2 separate regions of the Homo sapiens genome follow, and region 1 is linked to region 2. Evidence: fine-mapped expression QTL. Tissue or cell type: whole blood. Region 2 holds a variant in brackets; the other region holds the start of a gene. All regions are shown on one strand. Distances are between the middles of the regions.

Region 1 (2,680 bases), 23 kb before region 2:
TGGGTACCTCAAAGTCATCCTGGTTCTTCTTCCAAATGCAAGTGGTAGCATCAAAGCTGGCAGAGGCCAGGTAATTACCGCAGGGGGACCAGGCTACCTTCCGCACGGTGCGCTGGTGGCCTTCAGAAAGGACAGACTTGCAGATCCAGCTGTCACCTAAAGGCGGAGCGCAGGCCAGGCTCTGGAGCTGGGTGCAGCACCATGAAGCCATTCAATATCAGGGGCTAGCACTGGAATCAAGCTAGTGGGGGAAAGCTCAGGGAGTGTATTTCACAGCTTTTACAAAGATGCAAATGAATCTACTTCGTCTGGAAGCTTTTTTTTTTTTTTTTTTTTTTTTTTGAGACGGAGTTTTTGCTCTGATGCCCAGGCTGGGGTGCAATGGCACAATCTCGGCTCACTGCAATCTTCGCCTCCTGGGTTCAAGGGATTCTCCTGCCTCAGCCTCCCGAGTAGCTGGGATTACAGGTGCCCGCCACAACGCCCAGCTAATTTTGTAGTTTTAGTAGAGACGGGGTTTCACCATGTTGGCCAGGCTGGTCTTGACCTCTTGACCTCAGGTGATCTACCCGCCTCTGCTTCCCAAACTGCTAGGATTACAGGCGTGAGCCACCGCGCCCAACCTCTGGAGGCATCTTTCTAAAACAAATCTGATCTAAAATTGCTATTGGTTCCCCAATGCCCTCGGGATAAAATGTGACCATCCAGTCGCAAGTTACTCTGAAGGCCACTTTCCTAACACCTCTCTTTTCCCATTTTCCTGCCTCTGCAGCTAACACAATTCCCTTGACATTTCAGCTTGTCTGCTGACGTTTTTCCTCCCAACAGTCGCAGACTTCTTTGCCTGTAAAGCCCTTCTCGGCGTGGCTAACATCCCACTCTCCCTCCGCCAGGAACAGGTTCAGCCTCCCCTGCAGGCTGAGCGCCTGCACTACGCGCAGGCTGAGCCCTCAGCGCTGAGGGCCGCGCAACCAGGCTGGGCCTTACCCTCCGTGCCCCAGATGCGGATTCTCCGGTCGCCGCCGCACGAGGCCAGCAGGGTCCCCGCGGGGTTCCAGGCCAGGAACCAGCAGCGGGAGTCCGGGTGCGCCGGGACACGGCCCAGCAGCACCAGCGAGTCCTTCATGTCGGCCCGACGCAGGGGGAGGTGGGGGCGGGCAGAGTCCGCTGAGCAGACAGCGGGTCTCACCGCGCGCGTCTGCGTACCGCCCACTCCAGGCTTCCGCGGCCGACAGAGGCTCCCGCTTCCGCCGGAGGACCTGGGTCGCCCCGGAAACTCAACTGCCCACTGCTGCGGCCGCCATACCCTCTGGGAGTTGTAGTCGCTCCCCTCACCTCGGCAGGGAAAGCATCGCGGGACCGCCTCGAACTACCAGTCCCGTGAGGCCCTGCGCAGAGCCGGCGGCGCGCCCAGGCTGTGACGCGCGCGGGGGACGGGGCGGGGAGCCGGAGGAGGCGGAGGCAGAGGAGGAGGAAGCCGGAAGTGCATCGGCCCCGGGTCTGTCCGGGCGTTGCGGGATTGGGGCCTGGGAACGCTCGGCCCCCGGCAGCCGAGAAGCCCGTGACTGGGCTGAGCAGCACCATCCCAGCCCTGGGGCCTGCTGACTGGTGAGGAACAGTGGGCGGCGTGGGGAGGGTCTTTTCTGCGCACAGGTCGCACCCCAAACCGCCGGTCCCAGATCACGGGTCCCCGATCCCCGCGGCCCAGCCCGGTCCTCCGCCCCTCGGCATCCTCTGGCTGAGACCCTGACTCCGGGTCTTTGCTCTAGCAGTAGCCGATCCCCGATCCCTCCGCCCCCCACTCGAGTCTGCCCAGACCCCATCTGGCCCCTGGCCCTCTTCGGTTGTCGTCCCGCAGTCCCATTCCGGAGTCTCCTGTCTCCGCCCCCCGAATTCCCGCAGCCCTCCCCGTCTCCGTCAGCCCCGGGTCCCACCCCCCTATCCTCTGGTGTCAACCCTGACAGCCCAGTCCCGGCTTCACCTGCAGCGAACCCGGAGCGTTGCTATCCTCCACCGGACTGTCAGGCTCTGCGCGCCCCGCGGAGGTCGGCGGCGACCAGCAGCGACTGCGGAGCGACGGCGGGCGGCCCCGGGCATGTACGCCCCCGGAGGCGCAGGGCTGCCCGGCGGGCGCCGGCGGAGGAGCCCGGGAGGCAGCGCTCTGCCCAAGCAGCCGGAGCGTAGCCTGGCCTCGGCCCTGCCTGGCGCCCTGTCTATCACGGCGCTGTGCACTGCCCTCGCCGAGCCCGCCTGGTTGCACATCCACGGAGGCACCTGTTCGCGCCAGGAGCTGGGGGTCTCCGACGTGTTGGGCTATGTGCACCCGGACCTGCTGAAAGGTGAGGGTGCTGCGCGCTGGCCCTTAAAGCCTCGGTGGGGGACAGAATGTGTTCTGGCTGAAGCAGAGATAGCCAGGGACCAGACACTTGGTTGAAGGAAACGGCCCCATAACTGCCTGGTGTTCATGCCCACCAGGTGGCTCTGTTTGGGGTCCGGCCCCTCATTAATTCTGATGTTATTCAGCTAAGCACCTACTCCTCACAGCCATGTTAATCCGGACTGCTGCTATTTTAGGATTCTGCTGGAGGAAGGACGCTGTGTATCGAGAAAAGATAAGGGTGCTAGGTATCACAGTTAGCTGGCCTCTTCTAAGGATCCTGTGAAATACGGAAAAGCTTCT
Region 2 (2,680 bases):
GCAGGCTGAGGCAGGAGGATCACTGGAACCCAGGAGGCAGAAGTGGCAGTGAGCCAAAATTGAGCCACTGCCCTCCAGGCTGGGTGACAGAGCGAGACTCCATCTCAAAACAAAAACAAAAACAAAACAAAACGAACAACAACAGCAGCAAAAAAAGGCCAGGTTCAGTGGCTCACACCTGTAATCCCAGCACTTTCGGAGGCCGAGGTGGGCAGATCACTTGAGGTCAGGAGTTCGAGACCAGCCTAGCCGACATGGTGAAACTCCGGCTCTACTAAAAATACAAAAATTAGCTGGGTGTGGTGGCTTGCTCCTGTAGTACCAGCTACTCGGGAAGTTGAGGCAGGAGAATCACTTGAACCTGGGAGGCAGAGGTTGCAGTGAGCCAAGATTGCACCACTGCACTCCAGCCTGGGGGACCAGCCAGACCTTGTCTAAAAAAAAAAAAAAGGAAAGAAATAAATTCTTTTCCCATCTTTCTTTCTTTATTCTTATTTTTTGAGACAGCGTCTTCATCTGTTGCCCAAGGTAGAGTGCAGTGGCACAATCGCAGCTCATTGCAGCCTCTATCTCCTTAGGTTTAAGCAATCCTCACACTTCAGCCTCCAGGTTGCTGGGACTACAGGTGTGCAACACCACACCTGACTGATTTTTTTTTTTTCTTTTCTGTATTTTGTAGAGATGTGGTTTTGCCATGTTGCCCAGGCTGCTCTCAAACTCCTGGGCTCAAGCAATCTACACACCTCAACTTCCCAAAGTGCTGGGATTACCACCACACTTGGCCCTTTTCTCATTTCTAAAGTGGGTTGTCTTTTATTGTTGAGTTTTAAGAGCTTTTGTTTGTTTTTGCCATCCTGTGCCACTCTGTTGCACAGGATGGAGTGCCGTGGAGCCATCTGGGCTCACTGAAACCTCCAACTCCTGGGTTCAAGTGGTTCTTCTGCCTCAGTCTTGAGTGAGCCACTACGCCCGCCTAATTTTTGTATTTTTAGAGAGATAGAGTTTCACCGTGTTGGCCAGGCTGGTCTCAAACTCCTGACCTCAGGTGATCCGCCTGCCTCGGCCTCCCAAAGAGCTGGGATTATAGGCATGAGCCACCATGCCCGGCTGAGTTTTAAGAGTTTTTATATATTCTAGATACCAGCCCCTTATCAAGTGGCACAGAGCAACTATGGCAGAGGGCCTACAGAGATTAAGTTTGTGCCCCATAGATATACACTAAAACATTTTGGAGAAATGGAAAAATATGGATTGATACTTTCCATTGCAACAGAATTCTTTTAAAAGACAAAAGAACCTTAGATATCCTCACCAAATTTCAGGATGAAGAACACAGATATTGGAAATTCTTGCTCTAATCTTACCTAAGGGTGTATTAGTCAGTGCTGTTTTAGTTGCAAAAACTAAAAACTCAACTCAAATTAGTCATGGAAGAAAGGAATTTATTGGCTGAGCAGCGGAGAAGTTAAATCCTGAGGTGAATTTGGGGCTCCCAAGATGTCTGGGCCTCCTCACTCCCCCTCTTCCAGCTCCA[C/G]CCCTGATCACTGGCATCATTTCCTGGCCAGGCCCTTCTCTAGCCTTCAGTGTGGCAAGAGAGCAGTTTCATTTCCGGCTATCTCAGAGCACTGCATTCAACAGAAAACAAAGCAAGCCCTTTCCTTGGAGTTTACAAATGACTCAGGATTCACTCTGATTTGACCAAGAGTCAGAACCCTAATTGGCCAAGCCTGAAGTCACTTGTCTACCCCTGATACTGGGAATAGAATGCATGGATGAGAGGGAGGTGGGTGGTTCCATGAAAAGGAAATTCAAGCACTTTTCCTAAAAGAAGGGGGAATGGATGCTGAAACAACACGTCTCCCACAAAGGGAGCAGACACTGGGCTTGTGAAGCTGCCCCATACCTTCCCCACAGAACTGGGTTTCCCTCCTTGGTGCCCCTGACGGAGCCTTGTCTTCACCCTCCATTATGTATTCATCATGTGGCATCGTCACTGTTTCCTCCTCTGTCTCCAGAGTGTCTTCTCTTAGTTCTCAGCTAGTAAGAGAAGGAGGCTGGGCATGGTGGCTCATGCCTGTAATCCCAGCACTTTGGAAGGCCAAAGTGGAAGGATTGCTTGAAGCCAGGAGTTTGAGACCAGCCTGGGCAACAAAGTAAGACTCCCGTCTCTACAAAAAAGAAAAAAAAAGTTAGCTGGGCATGGTCATGTGCACCTGTGGTCCCAGCTACTTGGGAGGCAGAGGCAGGAAGACTGCTTGAGCCCAGGAGTTTAAGGCTGCAGCGAGCTATGATTGCACCACTGCACTCCAGCCTGGGTGACAGAGTGAGACCTCATCTATAAAATTTTTTTTTAAATGCAGGGGTGAAGGAAATAAGGAGGTAATTACTGAAAGAATGAAAGGTCATGCTAGAAATATACCATAAAATGCAATGGGGACTCAAAGAAGGGCAAGATTAAAGGGGACAGGAAATCTATTCTGGGGTGTCTTTGAGGGCCCTGAGAAATAAAACAAAGGAGTGGCAACAGGAACCAAAATATCCTCTTAATTACTGCTAGAGGGCTGGGCTGGAGGACACAGCTTTAGACCTGTGAACTAAGTGAGCTGCTAATGCAAATCCCACTAGGAGGCAGGCTCACCCGCCCAGCCATGGTAGCCCTCAACCAGAGAAAGCCTCCTTT

Evidence for each region. PIP is the estimated chance that this variant, and not a neighbour inherited with it, causes the effect.
Region 1: TMEM127 starts here. The variant in region 2 is fine-mapped to the expression of TMEM127 in whole blood (TOPMed, PIP above 0.99).

Annotation. Positions count from the first base shown.
Region 1 is chr2:96,264,797-96,267,476 of GRCh38, reverse strand. TMEM127 (transmembrane protein 127) reads left to right here and starts at 1,480. Exons shown (of 4, transcript NM_017849.4): 1 at 1,480-1,608; 2 at 1,965-2,339. The coding sequence starts at 2,096. It overlaps CIAO1 (cytosolic iron-sulfur assembly component 1), which reads right to left and starts at 1,252. Exons shown (of 7, transcript NM_004804.3): 1 at 988-1,252; 2 at 8-156. The coding sequence starts at 1,126. RefSeq lists enhancers at 1-63, 661-940, 1,171-1,360 and silencers at 1,591-1,640, 1,651-1,860, 1,911-2,220.
Region 2 is chr2:96,241,365-96,244,044 of GRCh38, reverse strand. It overlaps STARD7-AS1 (STARD7 antisense RNA 1), which reads right to left. Exons shown (of 4, transcript NR_046322.1): 4 at 1,422-2,168. Among named protein-coding and RNA genes, the nearest start is that of TMEM127, 23 kb to the left of the region's middle. RefSeq lists enhancers at 1,882-1,931, 1,952-2,211. The variant C/G (reference allele first, on the strand shown) is at 1,535.